Regions from separate parts of the Homo sapiens genome. Here region 1 is linked to region 2. The links come from fine-mapping of genetic effects on gene expression. Tissue or cell type: whole blood. Region 2 holds a variant in brackets; the other region holds the start of a gene. All regions are shown on one strand. Distances are from middle to middle.

The links. PIP is the estimated chance that this variant, and not a neighbour inherited with it, causes the effect.
Region 1: it holds the start of MRPL14, and the variant in region 2 is fine-mapped to the expression of MRPL14 in whole blood (INTERVAL, PIP above 0.99).

What each region holds. Positions count from the first base shown.
Region 1 is chr6:44,124,558-44,132,294 of GRCh38, reverse strand. It overlaps MRPL14 (mitochondrial ribosomal protein L14), which reads left to right and starts at 4,843. Exons shown (of 3, transcript NM_032111.4): 1 at 4,843-4,951. It overlaps TMEM63B (transmembrane protein 63B), which reads right to left and starts at 4,741. Exons shown (of 24, transcript NM_018426.3): 1 at 4,617-4,741. RefSeq lists silencers at 4,061-4,220, 4,401-4,510, 4,551-4,950, 4,971-5,020, 5,051-5,110 and 1 more.
Region 2 is chr6:44,102,316-44,110,052 of GRCh38, reverse strand. No RefSeq gene overlaps it. Among named protein-coding and RNA genes, the nearest start is that of MRPL14, 21 kb to the left of the region's middle. RefSeq lists enhancers at 2,140-2,639, 3,477-3,646, 5,489-5,658, 6,761-7,309, 7,310-7,737. The variant T/C (reference allele first, on the strand shown) is at 4,820.

The sequences.
Region 1 (7,737 bases), 22 kb before region 2:
ATCACCATGCTCCTCTGCTGTCCGCCTCCTTGGGGTCACAAAGTACTCTCCCCTCCACAACAGCATTAATCTTCCCACCTGCATGGGAGGAAGGCAGGGCACACTCAGATCACTATCCCCATTTTACAGGGAGGAAGCAGGAACCCAGTAGGGGAAGCAACTTGCACAGTGACAGGACAGGTAAGGGGTGGAGCCTGGGCTGGCAGCTCTGCCAGTTGACAGGGCTGCTCCAAGCTTTTAATTGTGGGGGTGGGGTTGCTGGGTTGAGTTTCATCAAGGGCAGCTGCTCTCAAAGCCAGCACTGGGCTGAGCAACTGAGAAGAGGGAAGACATTGAGGCAGAATACCTTGGGGATGGGAGGTGGCAGTTCTTCCACTCCACGAGGTGCCTGCACCAGCTATATCCCAGTTTCTCTAGTCTGATATTGAGGTTTTGGTTGAGGTGTGTCCAGAGAGTGATGGAGCATTTTACTTCTAGCTAACTTTTTAATTTTACCATTAAGGAGTGTGTGCATGGTGGGGGTTGGAGAGCTATAACTTATAAGCTTTTTTTTGGGGGGGTTGTTGTGTATTTTTTTGAGACGGAGTCTCGCTCTGTCACCAGAGTGGAGTGCAGTGGCGCGATCTTGGCTCACTGCAACCTCTGCCTCCTGGGTTCAAGGGATTCTCCTGCCTCAGCCTCCTGAGTAGCTGGGACTACAGACACATGCCACCACGCCCAGCTAATTTTTGTATTTTCAGTAGAGACAGGGTTTCACCATGTTGGCCAGGATGGTCTCGATCTCTTGACCTCATGATCTGCCCACCTCGGCCTCCCAAAGTGCTGGGATTACAGGAGTGATATAAGCTTTTTCAGTGGAGTTACTGGGCAAGATTTAAGTTAGGGCTTTGGATCAAAGCAAGGCCATGTGGTCTGAGGGGAGGAGGGGAAGATGGAAGCGAGCTCTGTTACTACGAAACCTGAGTCTCAGTCTTCCAATCTGTAACAAAGAGATACAAATATCCTTACTCTACCCCTACCCACTTCAGAGAGAAAGGCAAGAATATATCCACAAGTGAGCATAAAAGTAGTAGTAGGTGCCAGGCACGGTGGCTCACACCTGTAATCCCAGCATTTTGGGAGGCCGAGCTGGGCAGATCACAGGGTCAGGAGTTCGAGACCAGCCTGGCCAACACAGTGAAACCCCGTCTCTACTAAAAAAATACAAAAATTAGCTGGGTGTGGTGGCATGCGTCTGTAGTCCCAGCTACTCGGGAGGCTGAGGCAGGAGAATCACTTGAACCCAGGAGGCAGAGGTTGCAGTGACCTTAGATCATGCCACTGCACTCCAGCCTGGGCGACAGAGTGAGACTCCATCTCAAAAAAAAAAGTAGTAGTAGGCAGGGTGGGGTGGCTCACCCCTGTAATCTCAGCACTTTTGAAGGCCAAGTGGGGAAGATACCTTGAGCCTAGGAGTTGGAGGCTGCAGTCAGCCATGATCATGCCACTGCACTCCAGCCTGGGCAAGAGAGCAAAACCTTGTCTCGAGGGGAAAAAAAAAAAAAAGCCAGGCATGGTGGCTCACACCTGTAATCCCAGCACTTTGGGAGGCTGTGGTGGGAGAATCACGTCAGCCCAGGAGTTCGAGACCAGCTTGGGCAACATAGCAAAACCCCGTCTCTACAAAAGATACCCCCCACCACCAAAATTTAGCTGGGCATGCTGGTGCATGTCTGTAGTCCCAGCTACTCCGGAAGCTGAGGTGCGAAGATCACCTGAGCCCAGGGAGTTCCAGGCTGCAGTGAACCAAGATCATGCCACTGCACTCCATCCTGGGCGACAGACAGAGACCGTGTCTAAAAAAAAAAAGGAAAGAAAAAAGAAAAACAGAAAAAGAAAAAAAAGTAGTAAAATAATAGTATTAAATGTTTATTTAACTCTTCTTTTGTGCCAAGCACTGTTCTAAGCACTTTACAAATGTAACTCATTTGCTCCCCATCACAACCCCAGGAGGACACTGAGATACAGAGAGAGTATATGAGCTGCTCAAGGTCACACAGCCAGTCTGTGGTAGACCCAGATAAGGACCCAGGCTGCCTGGCTCGAGTGTATGCTCTTAACCACTGCACTTTGCAGAGTTATCTGCAAACAAGAGCCACTTCCACCAGGGAGCCGGAGGCAGTCAGTTACCACACTGGAGAAATGCCATACCCTATTTCTACCTGCTTGCCTTTCCTCTTGCTTGTAGCTTCCCTCCACTCAGGCCTTGGGTTTGTGATTTCAGGTTCTGAGGCAGGCATAGGGGACAGGCACCATAGTCTGGTGGTTAAAAGCACAGACTCTAGGATGTGACAGACCAGGCTTCTAACCTGGGAAAATTACTTAGTCACCCTGGGCCTCAGTTTCTTCATTTGTAAAATGGGACAATAATCCAGTTGTGTTGTTGTTCTGGGGATTAAACAAGATGACTTATGTAAAGCTCTTAATATAGTTCAAGGCATATAATGGGCTCTAGGAATTAGTTATTGTTATTAATAAGGTATGGAATAAAAGGGGTTGGTTTAGAGAAAGAAAATTGGTAAAAACAAAAATAAGATAAAAACACAGAATGTAACATGATAGAAATATAACAGAGCCCCTCAGTCAGGTTGGGCTTCTTATTTAGACCTAAGGGTTTACACTGTGTTAGGGACTCTGCCACTGAGTGACAGGGAATATTCTCACTCTTTGAACATACCCCATCCATCTGTGGTAGCCTGGGAGGTGGAGGCATGGGAGAGTTATGGGTCAGAAGTTCAGAGATGATAACCCATTATTGATCAATTACCAGGAAGGATGCCAAGCTCTTTACTTCTGTTACCTTGTTTGATTCCCATGATAAAACTTGTAAGGAGGTGGTAGTAACCACACTTTTTTTCTTTTTCTTTTCTTTCTTTTTTTTTTTTTTTTTGAGACAGTCTTGCTCTGTCACCCAGGCTGGAGTGAAGTGCCACAATCTCGGCTCACTGCAACCTCCGCCTCCCAGGTTTAAGCCATTCTCCTGCCTCAGCCTCCTGAGTAGCTGGGATTACAGGTGTGTGCCACCATGCCCGGCTAATTTTTGTATTTTTAGTAGCGATGGGGTTTCACCATGTTGGCCAGGCTGGTCTCGAACTCCTGACCTCAAGTGATCTGTCCGCCTCAGTCTCCCAAAGTGCTGGAATTATAGGCATAAACACTTTTTAATGAAAACTGAGGTTCAGACAGGTTAAGTAACTTGTCAAGGTCACACAGCTGAAGAATAGTAGAGCTAGAATTTGAACGCAGGTCTCTAAGACTCTGCTATACTTGGAGAGAACTTGAATGATGTCCAAGGGGGTTCTTAGTTACCCACTGCCTGCCTTCTGCCTTGCCATGTCCCCATCCACCCACAGGCCAAGACTGCACTGAGTGAGCCAACAGCAGGCCCCAGCATGTGCCACCTGGGGCATGCCAAGGCCTGGACCCTCTGGTGCCCTGGAGGACAATCACGCTGCCAGCACACCCCCACTTGAAGCCTGGCTGACACTCCCACTCCCCACCTCACCCTGGCCTGGGAGGCAGGATGGGCCCCTCTTCAGCAGGTGTTGGGCACAGCCTCATTGCTCCCCGGCTGCTGCAGACTGGTAATGGGTAGGCAAGCCCCAGCCCCCCAGGGCGGTGGAGTGCTCAGGCTTGCCCCGAGCGGCCAGACCTCTGCCCAGGGGACCCAGGCAGGGGGCAGCACAGCGCCCCAAGGGCAGCCAGCCCCTCTGACCTCTCCTCCCCACTTCCCAAGCGTCCTTTCCTTTTCTGGGGAACAAGGTGCCAAGCTTTGGGACTGTCCGCCTTAGGCGGTCAAGACAGCCAGGAGGGACAAAGCGGCGCCCCCTCCCCACAACAGGGCCTTTGCCCCACTCTCGGTTTCGCGTCTGAATCTTTTCCCCACCGCACCCTCCAACGCAGGCCCGGGCGGCTCATGAATGAACTGCACTGTGTGGGGCGCAAGGAGAGGACACGCTCCCGGGGCCGGCCGCCTCTCCAGCCCGCCGACCAGTCAGTCCCCAGAGCCGGGGGCAGCGGCCGGCCTCGTGCCAGCACCTGCGAACCCTGCCCTTGCCCGAGCCCGAGCCCTTACCCCGGACCGGCTTCGGGTGTACTCGCCCCCGGGAGCAGCAGAAAAAATAAAAGGCACAGAAGGCATCGGACTTGGCGACCCCGGGGTCCAAAACTCGGGGGCGGGGGCGGCTAGTTCCCCAAACGGCGGCGGACAGGCGGGGCGCAGCTGGCACCCCCGAGGGTCGCGCAGGGGACGCGCACCTGCACCGGGCAGGTGGGAGAAGAGTGGCACTCGGGGGCCGGGGGCGGGGGTCCCACCCTTTGGGATCTCCCCGGGGCTGGGGAGAGCCGGCGGCGCGTATCTGGACCTCCGGCAGGGGTTGGAGGACTCACATTTGGCTCGGGATGGTGCGGGGTTGGGGGCAGCGCGCGCCACCCCTGGGTCCCGCGGGCCCGGGCACCTCTGGGTCCCGCAGGAGGTTGAAGGGAGGGGACGCGCAGCTGAGTCCAGGTTTTTTCTTTGGGTGGTGGTGGGATCTTCGAAGAAAAGAGCGAGGGCTGGGTAGGGGTCGCGTACTCACCCCCAGGCGCAGACTCGGCTCCGGCTCGGAGCCCCGGGTTGGGGCGGGGCGGGGCTGGGGGAGGGGGAGGGGGAGTCGCTGGGCGGCTCGAGCTCCGGGCTCCTGCGGCGGCCGCGGCAGTGTATGGGGGAGGGGGAGCGGGGGGAGGGAGGGGGAGGGGGCGGAGCCCCGCAGGTCCCGCCCCGCACGCCGGCGCACGCAAGGTGCGCGCGCACTCTCAGATCGCGTCCGCCGGGCTGGGCCTGGCGCGCAGGCGCTAGGAAGAGGCCGCGTGGGGCGAAGGCGGCGCTTGGCTGGTGGGGCCCGCGGCGGGATTTTCCCGGGCGGCGAGAGCGGTATGGTGGGGGGCAGGGGTGGGCGTTAAGTCCTCATTCCCTCCTTCTCCTCTTCCTTTCTCTGCAGTAGGGGAGGCCCACTCCCCGGGGTGAGTGAGGAGAGGCCAGAGTGGGAGGCAGAGCGTCAGTGGGAGGGGTCCCGACGGGGAGGGGGGGGTCCCGACGGGGAGGGGGGTCCCGACGGGGAGGGGAGGCCCCTTACCCGGATCCTCCTCCCTTCCGCTCTCCGTGGGCTGCTTCTGCGACCCCCAAGTCCGTGGCCGGCGCTCACCTGCTTTCCCCGGGTTGCGGCGTCGACTTGGGGAGGGCGGGCTGCGTTCAGCCGTCGCTGGTCACTCCGGAGCGTCTCCTCCGGCTTCTCCGCTTTCCGCGCTCCCCTCCCCTTTCCCAACTTAGGTCTGGAGATGAGTTAGCCAGACGCCTCTGTGGTGTGAGGATTGAGTTTTTGCTTTCACTCTGTCAACGCTGATGAGTGCGCCCTCCCCCAGGCCAGGGGGTTCCCTGGTTTCTTATTTCACCAGAGACTGCATCTACCAGTGATTAAGACTGGAAAGATGAAGGGAGAGACTGAGACTCTTTCTATATATCACCCACACAAATAGATCATAAAGGCACAACGGGCACCAACCTGGTCATTTAATTTCTGGTTCCTGGAGGGGACAAAAAGGAAGTATTGCTTTCCACAGCCGACGATAAATGAACTTTGCCACCGTAAGAGACGGACGGGACTGAATTTATAAAGAGGTTAAAAGGGCATATGACAGACACCTCAGGCTACTTGGGAAACTCTGGGAGTTTGGGAGATAATTAACTCTCAGGGCTGGTGGTGGTGGGGAACTGCCACTGCTGAACAGAAGGACACTGCCCACCTGGGGGGTTTGGATCTTGTAGTTGGTCAGCGTCTCTGCTGTATGCTGGATTTTCAAGAGTTCATTAGTAGCTTGTGGAATGCAACTGTAAGGTTTGATTTATTGCAGTGTTTTTCAAACTGAATCCTATTGGTGAGTTGGAAATCAGTTTAGTAGATCACGGCCACTTGAAATAGAAAATATCAGAGGGTGTTGCACTTAGGGTATTGTTTCTTGACACTTCAGGTGTACACACACGTGTGAGTGTACTAGGAGGTGTTCTACAGTGTGTTTCTGTAGGTCGCAGTGAGAAAAATTTGAAAAGCGTTGTCTCCTGTGCCCTTCTATTTGCCCTCTTGCCTTTCTTTGCCTGAGTTTTCAGTCACTTAAAATTGTCTGAGGATGCAGTTAGCATGCCAGGAATATACAGTAAAGAACAAGGTGGATCTTCTTCACGGAGGTTACTGTGTGAGACGAAAGACAGTTCACTGTTCATCACTGGAAATACTGTACGTGCTACTGAAAAACAAGGATTTTATTGAGGTAAGAAGTTGGTTGGCTTAATTAGGAAGGGCAGTTTTTCAACTGTGAAAGAAAGGAAGATGGAGATGAAGCCCGTTTTTGGTAAAGTGCTTGGTGGGAAGGGTCTTTGTAGGTTTGGATTCTGGGAGTTGTGAAATTGGTGTAATCTGTTGCTTGTGTGGAACAATAAAATTCACTTTGAGGTCAAATAGTATTATAATGGATATCTGAAAAATGGAAGTGGAAGCCATAGTTGTCTGGTTTTTGGATTTCTGAGGATCACTAGAAGGCCTTTTTTTTTTTTTTTTTTTTTTTTTTTGAGACAGTCTCTCTTGCCCAGGCTGGGGAGATCTGGGTGCAGCAGTGCGATCTCAGCTCACTGCAGCTTCTCCTGGGATCTAGCAATTCTTATGCCTCAGCCTCCCGAGTAGCTGGGACTGCAGGCGCGAGCCACCACTCCTGGCTAATTTTTGTATTTTTAGTAGAGATAGGGTTTCACCATGTTGCCCAGGCTGGTCTCCAGCCCCTGACCTCAATCGATCTACGCAACTCAGCCTCTCAAAGTGCTGGGATTACAGGCGTGAGCCACCTTGTCCAGCCAGAAGGCATTTTTTATATGTTTTTATTTTTTACAAAAAGTATAGTTATGAATCTGAGCATGTGGATTCCTGAACTATTTCTGCCTGTGCCTAATTAGGGTCAGCACCTAATCCTCAAGGAGTGTGTGAGCCATCAAGTGACACTTTCCAGGGCAAGCATTTCAGAAAGCCTGACATGAGAATTAAGTGCCTTGTGGAATCCTTGAAGAACAGTGGCCAAAATATTTTATTATTGCTCCTGAATATTAAAGATAAAATGTTTCCCTTGGGGCGGGGTGGATAACAACAACAAAATTTCCCTGGAGTCCACTTTTCAGGTGGTTGGGCACTGAGCATGGTTATTTAGACTCTTCTTAGCTCCTAGTCTTCAGTGTTGCAAGAATTCTTTAAAACCTATTTTGCTCCATTTATGTCTTTGGGATTATCATGCCTGGGCACACCTAAGGTGGATTTTCCTACTGTCAGGTTACTTGGATAGTTCTTAGGGCTGTAGGGGGGGTCTCGAAAAGCAGGTTATGGTTTAGCCTTCTATTTTATAGGCTCATGGTTTGTCTGGGTTGTAGCTTACCCTGGTGTGATTTTACATGTGTATTTACAGTGACAACTAGTATGCAAGAGAAGACTGCAGTTCAGATCTCAGAAATGTTGTTCTGGGTCAGGTAATATGCTGAATATTTAAAAAGGTCATAGTAAAGTAGCTTACCATTCACCAGTGAAACCACTCAGAGTAGGAGAGCCCTCTGTTAAAAACTCAAAAAATCTTTTATGTCTTAGAAAAGAGAGGAAGTAATTTACCATGTCCACTCTAAACTGAAAA
Region 2 (7,737 bases):
TATAAACTTGCTTTTGTTGTTTTTCCCCTTCTGTGCCCTTAAGAATCTGCCCCTGACAGGCCAAAGGGCTTTATTCTCTGGGTTCATGGACTTCATCACACTTTCTTTGCTGAAGTGGCTAGCTCCGCTCATGATCCTACTCCCTCTGCTAGATAACTGCTGAAGAAATGTGAGGAAAGAGCTCTAGGTTAGTTACTGTAGTCAGAGACCTGGGTTCCAGATGGAACCCTGCTGCTAACTAGCCACAGCCTCTGGAGGAGTTGGGAGCTTATTGCTTGAGGGCTTGGTGCTCAGGACCTCTGGCCAGTGGGTGTGACTCCTAAGGACCAGCCACATTGAGGGATGTGCTCTTGGCTGTTGATGAGGTGAGGGGGACCTGACCAAAGCATGTGCAGAGAGGCCTTGCCACCATCGGCACTCCTGAAGCTAGTCATCTCTGGCACAGATGTCCAGTCCGCTTTCTGTGTGCCTTTGGGAAGTAGCACAGAAAGCAGGGAAATTAAGAGCCACTAAGTACCAGCTGCTGCAGCTGAGGAGAAGCACTCACTACTGAGTTTCTCCCCTGAAATTCTCAAGCCCAGCCTTGCACTTAGGAGGGCAGCAGCCACCGTGAGGCAGAATTCACTGGAGGCGTGCCTCCTCCTGTGTCAAGAGTGTGGAGGAGGGCCAGGGCCGGGGTCAATCCGGGGGTGAGATCCTACTGTGCAGGTGGGAGCCCAAGGCCGTTCCGCTCCAACCTCCCCGTGCGCAGCCTCCTCAGTGTCCTTGCTCGGGCCTCTCATTGCCTTTCTTGGCCTCTTCTCATGGTCTTTCATTTTCTTTCTCAGTGGCTGAGAAATCTTGTTTTTGACAAAAATTGTATGATACTGGACTCAAATGCTTAACTGAAATTCGAATCTGTACCAGCAGCTGCATGTCTTTTCTTCCTCTAATTTTGTAATTCATACTTAAAATCATGGGACTTCTGTTTCATTCTTTCCCACCGGGAGAATGGTAACGGATCACAATTAAGTTCTTTCCAGCATTTTCGACACCTTCTTGCTGAATTATTTTGCCAAATATTAGTAATTTTCTGAATTATTTGGGCTTCCTGGGCTGAAAGTGGTGATGAGTTTGCTTCTCAACTTTCAGTATAAAGATGGTGATTCCCAGCTAGATTTGGGAACAGTAATCTGTTGTCATTTGCTTGATATTATGGCAGGCTGTTTCATAAGACATGCTGCAGGCATTTTTTAAATGAAAATTAAACTTATTTTATTTTGGTAGTTTCACAAGAACTCTTGAATAATTGTGATACCTTTGGATATTATGAAACCTTGATTGGCAACTGATTTGAGGCCAAGTGTTTACATGCTCAGTAGAGACAGTTCTTGGCCGATCTTGACTGATGATCCAGTGTGTGATCACAGCTGCTCTCCCTGCTCCCCACTGAGCTCCCTGTTGATTGGCACCACTTCTCAGGGGGCTGCCCAGCACAGGAAGAGGAGAGAAAGAGAGACCTTTGGGTGCTGGCCTTCTCAAGGGATACTATACCTGGCCTCCAGTGGGTTTCCCAGGCAGGGAGTGGGCTGTGCTGCCCCATCCCCACAGGCTAACCCAGCGCCCTTCCTGGCTGGCCATGGCTGATGTCTGCAAAGAGGCAGGTACACATGGGTCAGGGAGCAGGGCTTTCATTTGTCCGTGTGTCTACTAGCATCCTGTCAACCAACTGCATTAACTCATCAGTTACACTGCCAGGTCTGGTAAAAGGTTTGCAGGTAAAGAAGGATGAAATCCTTGTCTGAAATTAGGTTTCAAGGTTATCTCTGGATTTTGTTTCTCCAGGCTGGGTCCCCATAATTGAGGGCAAGGCTTTGTTGGAGTTAACTCACCTATAGCTTCAGAACAGTTTATTTCAAAACAAAGCTGAAGTGGATTCCCACCATTGTGGTTTAGACCATTCATGATGACCATGTCGACTTGGGGAGCTGAGGAGCCAACCACATTTCACATATGAGAGTAACAGATTTGGGACTAGAACTTGAGTTTTCTCATGCCCAGTCCAGCTCTTTTCACTGCATCTAACTGTGACATAAGACACCGTTTCACTCTGTTGCCCAGGCTGGAGTGCAATGGCGTGATCTTAGGTCACTGTAACCTCCACCTCCCAGGTTCAAGTGATTCTCCTGCCTCAGCCTCCCAAGTAGTTGGGATTACAGGCGCCCACCACCATGCCCAGCTAATTTTTGTGTTATTAGTAGAGATGGGGTTTCTTTTTTTTTTTTTTGAGATGGAGTTTTGCTCTTTCGCCCAGGCTGGAGTGCAGTGGCACTATCTTGGCTCACTGCAAGCTCCGCCTCCCAGGTTCACACCATTCTCCTGCCTCAGCCTCCTGAGTAGCTGGGACTACAGGTGCTCGTCACCACGCCCAGCTAATTTTTTGTGTTTTTTTAGTAGAGACGGGGTTTCACCGTGTTAGCCAGGATGGTCTCGATCTCCTGACCTTGTGATCCACCCGCCTCGGCCTCCCAAAGTGCTGGGATTACAGGCGTGAGCCACCGTGCCTGGCTGAGATGGGGTTTCAACATGTTGGTCAGGCTGGTCTCAAACTCCTGATCTCAAGTGATCTGCCTACCTTGGCCTCCCAAAATGCTGGGATTACAGGCGTGAGCCACCATGCCTGGCCCGAAAAATACTTTTGAATGGGGCCATACCTGTCCCGCCTGAGGGGCAGGAAGCAGCATTGCTTGTGAGGAGTTGAGAGAATTTCAGCTGCGCTGAGGAGCAGGACTTCCCAAGGCATGTGGACCAGGTGGTTGGAGTATGTGGTGCTGATGGGTCAGAGGGAGGCAGGATGTTTGTGAGCTGTGGTCTGAAACCTCTCCGACCCCTGCATTCCTCACTGGGTCTGAAAGCTTCAGAGCCCACCTCACTGCTTTTTCTTCTGAGTAGGTGCTTCCTCACTGGGATCCATGTGATTTCTGAACCCCCCTGGCAGACCTCTACCTCTATGCAGCACTTTCCAGTTTGCAGTGCCTTCACCTTTTAGTCCTAGAAAGTTTCTTCCAGCCTAGAACTTCTGTGACTCCAGGCCTTGGTGACAACTCTGAGTAGTAGGTAGGGCTGGTGTCCCTGTTTTAAAGATAGGAAACAGTAAGTAAGTGGTAGAGTTGGGCCAGTGTTCTCCTTCCTCTGTGGGGCCCAGGCTGAGCCCTGTTGGTCCTCAGCATAGCACTTCTTACAGCACTTTGAAACTGGGCAAGCCCATGGGCTCAGGAGCAGTCTCTGTCTTGTTCATAGTTCTATCGCTGATGCTTAGTAGATGCACAAAAATATGAGAGCTGAAAAGTTAAAATTTGTATTCTCAATTTAGGAGTCTGCATATAGACATCTAGTATAGGGGTTGGTAAAAATTAAGACATTATGGAGTGTCTACAAGGACCCATGGTGGACAGAGTTGCCTGTCTCCACATAGATCCTTATCCCAAGGGCTTCACCCACACTGGCCAGATGCCCAGTGTTTTCTGTTTCCCCATTAAACTCCAGTTTATGACTCCAGTTTAAGATATTCTATGATGTCTATAACTGCTTAAGCTGGCACGTATTTTTACTCTTCATGTTTAGGGGGAAAAAAAAGGCTGTACAAGAGATAAGGCAGTGGTTCTCAGCTGGGGACATTTGGCAATGTCTGGAGATAGTGTTGGTTGTCACAACTGGGGGCAGCATCTAGTGGGTAGAGTCCAGGGATGCTGCTGGCCATGCTACAATGTGCAGGACTGCCCGCACAACAAAGAACTCCCTGGCCCCAAGGGTTGACAGTCTTAAGGGTGAGACTAGGTGGGACCTGTTGTGTATAAGGAGGACAGAGAGCATCTGGGAGTCATAGTGAGCCAATGGTTCATAAATAGTGGTGTAGAATTACAGGAATGAAGCCACATTGCAATCCATGGAGATATGCACTTGATCACTGTTTATCTGCTGATTGCCATGATTTGGGCCCTAAAGCTGGAGTAGGTGTTGGAAAATGTAGAAAGGCTGCAGTTTACTGAAGGGTTGAGGCCAGCAGTCAAGGCCATCGGAGGATTGGGGCCATTTGGCTCACAGAGTGAGGTGGGGAGAACTGGTCCACATGATTGCATGTGCAGTGCTCTGGGTGGGGGGTTGAGGCCAAAGCTTTAGCTTGGGCTCAGCCACTGGCTCGCATCTCAGGTCACTTTAGCTGGTCACATTTCTCAGAGCTTTGGTTTCTGCCTCTGCCCTTACCTCTCAGGACTGTCTTAGCAGTGGCACCAGCAACCTTCCTGCCTTACAAATCTTACAACTTTGGAGTCACTTTTGGGTTTGTCCTACTTTTCTCTTTTCTTTTTTTTTTGGAGACGGAGTTTCACTCTTGTTGCCCAGGCTGGAGTGCAGTGGCACGATCTCGGCTCACCACAACCTCCACCTCCCGGGTTCAAGTGATTCCCCTGCCTCAGCCTCCCGAGTAGCTGGGATTACAGGCATGCGCCACCACACCTGGCTAATTTTGTATTTTTAGTAGAGACGGGGTTTCTCCATGTTGGTCATGCTGCTCTCAAACTCCAGACCTCAGGTGATCCACCTGCCTTGGCCTCCCAAAGTGCTAGGATTACAGGCGTGAGCCACCGCGCCTAGCCTCATTTTTGTTTTTTACGAAGTCCTGTCCATTCTCCTACAGCAGCAGTGCTGTTCCTTTTCCTTCTGGAACTTCACATTTCAATCCAGGGCTCTGACCTGGTCTTGGCATGCTGCCAACTTCTTGCGACAATCTGGCTGCCCACCGAGGTAGAAACCACATCTCTTTCAGCCTTGGTCTGTGGCA[T/C]ATGGTAGTAGGAACAGACAAGAGAAACCAATTTATTGAGGGCTTGCTTTATGCCAGTTTTGTGCTGGACACTTTGCATATTCTCTTCCAAGTCTTCACAATGATGCCGTGTGATTATTGTATCTGATTTATGTGTGAGAAAACCCAGGCTGAGAAGAGTTAAGGGACTTGTAGTCAAGTGGCAGGCTGAGATTTGAAGTCAGGACCACCTGACCACATTTCTTCTGCTTTTTCTGCTGCACTGACCTGTGGTGGAAATATTTCTTGGTAATGTGCCTTCCCTCAGCTATTAAAATAGTTTTCCGGAAGCATCTGTTGGATGACCATTGTGGATACTTGTAGTTACTTCCAGTTGCCTCTTAGGTCAGCACCTTCCGGCCCAAGCTGAGGTCAGTGCTTCCTGCTGGAGGTTGGCTCCTGGCCTTATTTAACACCACTGTTTCCTGTCACTCCACAGCTTGGTCATCTACTCTGCCAAGGAAATGGGCCAGTCTTCATTCTCTGCACTTAGCCAACTGGGGGCTTCCTGGGTCTTGGCTCACCCTGGAGCTGTTAACACCCATTTTCAAGTGGGTTCCTAATGTTTGCTGAGTGAGTTATCAAGTGAAGAAAGAGTGTGGGTTCTTCCCCATCCCCACAAAGGGCCACCACTCACCTCCAGACCCAGTTCCTCATCTGGAAAACCCAAGCTAAGGAAGTCCCTTGCAGCCTGGCGGAGGAACTCTGCTCACTTGGTGCTCTCAACCTGGAGGCGGGGGTTTGTCCCACTTGGAGACCTCGACTTTGCTCATTGCTTCTCCAACCCTGTCGGTACTGTTGCTGCCTTTACACCGGCATAAGCCATGCTGACCCCACAGGTGAGCCTTGGCACATCTTTGGCCTGGAATGTTGTTTTCTCCTTGGAGAAGTGGTCGGTCTGTGGAACCCTGCTCAGGGTGTCTCATCAGTGAAGTTCTGTTCAATTGACATTGGTTGAGCCCTGGGTTGGACATCTTAATCTGTCCCTCGGGGTCCCTCTCACCCTTTTCCACCCTGCCCTGTGCCCCAGGAGGCTGACCTGTATGGACTGCATCAGCGGGCTCCCATTCCTGCAGGGCTGACCACACTCTTCAGTCATATGTCACAGCCCCTCAGGCAGTGCTCTACACTCTTGGGGCCTTGGCGTCAGGGCACTACAGCACCCACTGTACTGGTCCACACCTTTGTAAACAGTCCCTTTGTTAAATTCTCCTCACATTATCCCAATTCAAGTGGCCCCTTGTTGCCTGCTTGGACGCTGACTGATGCAAACATTTACTGTGTGTGCCCAGATGGGCAAAATATGGATCTTGCCCTGGAGAAGCTCTCAGAAGGGAGACAGATCCATGAGCAGTTTCTGCCTCCTGCAGCAGGTGACAGGAGCCCATGTGCTGTGGCAACACTGACCCAGGAGGGTCAGAAAGGCTTCCTGAGGAGATGCCCAGAGCCTGGAAGCTGGACAGTCAGAGTTAGTCAAGTGACAGGCTGAAGTGGGAATACCCTTTCATCCCAGCCAAAACCAGAGGTGTGATGCCGGGTGGGATGTGCCGGGACCTGCCAGCTGTTTGAGGTACCTAGAGGGTTGCAGTGGGGCTGAGGTAGCTGACGGGCCAGGCCAGGGAAGGCTACATAGGTTGCACTAGGTGCTGGGACTTTAACCCTGTCACTGCCCTGCTTTAACTGGCCAGTGGCTCCCCATCCCAGATGGACATTTATTAAGATCACTCAGCTGCTGTGCAAAGAACCCCTCTAAAAGGGTTGGTATGAAGGACCAGGAAGGGAGCAGGGAATTCAGTAAATTCAAGAGATGGCCAGGCGCGGTGGCTCACGCCTGTAATTCCTGCACTTTGGGAGGCCGAGGCGGGTAGATCATCTGAGGTCAGGAGTTTGAGACCAGTCTGGCCAGCGTGGCGAAACTATCTCTACCAAAAATACGAAAATTAGCTGGGCGTGGTGGCATGCACCTGTAATCCCGGCTACTCGGGAGGCTGACACAGGAGAATCGCTTAAACCCGGGAGGCGGAGGTTGAGTGAGCTGAGATCGTGCCACTGCACTCCAGCCTGGGTGACAGAGCAAGACTTCGTCTCAAAAAAAAAAAAAAAAAAAGGAAAACAAAACAAAACAACATAATACTCTGGTAAGGCAAGGCAGGGATGGAGGACAGGAGTTAAGAAAGATTTGAGGGAAAATAGCTATTTAGTAGGTAGAAGTAGCTTGGCATAGAGAAAGGACCATGCTGGGAAACAGGGCAGGGAGTTCAGAAATTCAAGTTAGCACTATCAAATTATCTTGGGATAGGTTATTGAGAGGTGGGCTTTGTATTCAGAGGAACTTCATAGTGAAGGAGAATGGGGTAGGGGGTTGGGGGTGAGCACAGGGCAAGCTGCAGGCTGTTCCTGTGGAGGGGAGCTGGGCCAGCTCAGCTGCTGACTGGTGGAGGCCTGGGCTGAGGCAGGGAGGGGAGATGCCTGCAGCAGCCAATGCACAGCTGGGGGTCTGGTGAGACTGTGTGTGATCTGGGCTACAGGGCTTTCTCTCCTGCTGGCCTGTGCTGCCTCTCGCCCTGCCCTTGTGCTCTGGAGCTGCCCCTCCTCTGAGCCATGTCCAAGAAATAAAGCGCATCCATGCCTCCCTGCACCTGCAGTCTTAAACCTGTTGGGCTACTCAATTGATAAACTTCCCCTGAGGTGGAATAGGCAGGATCTGGTGAAAGTTTGGAGGTGGATGGAGGTGAGGGTACCTTCTAGGGCTCTGACTTGGTGGAATGGATGGGGCTCTTTATGGAGTTCAGGATCTTAGGAGGGGAGAGAGGAGAAGGCAGGGAATTCTTTTCTGCTTGTTTAGTTGCAAGTGTTTTGTTGACAGTACGGTACACCAAACATAAGGTCGGGGGTGAGAA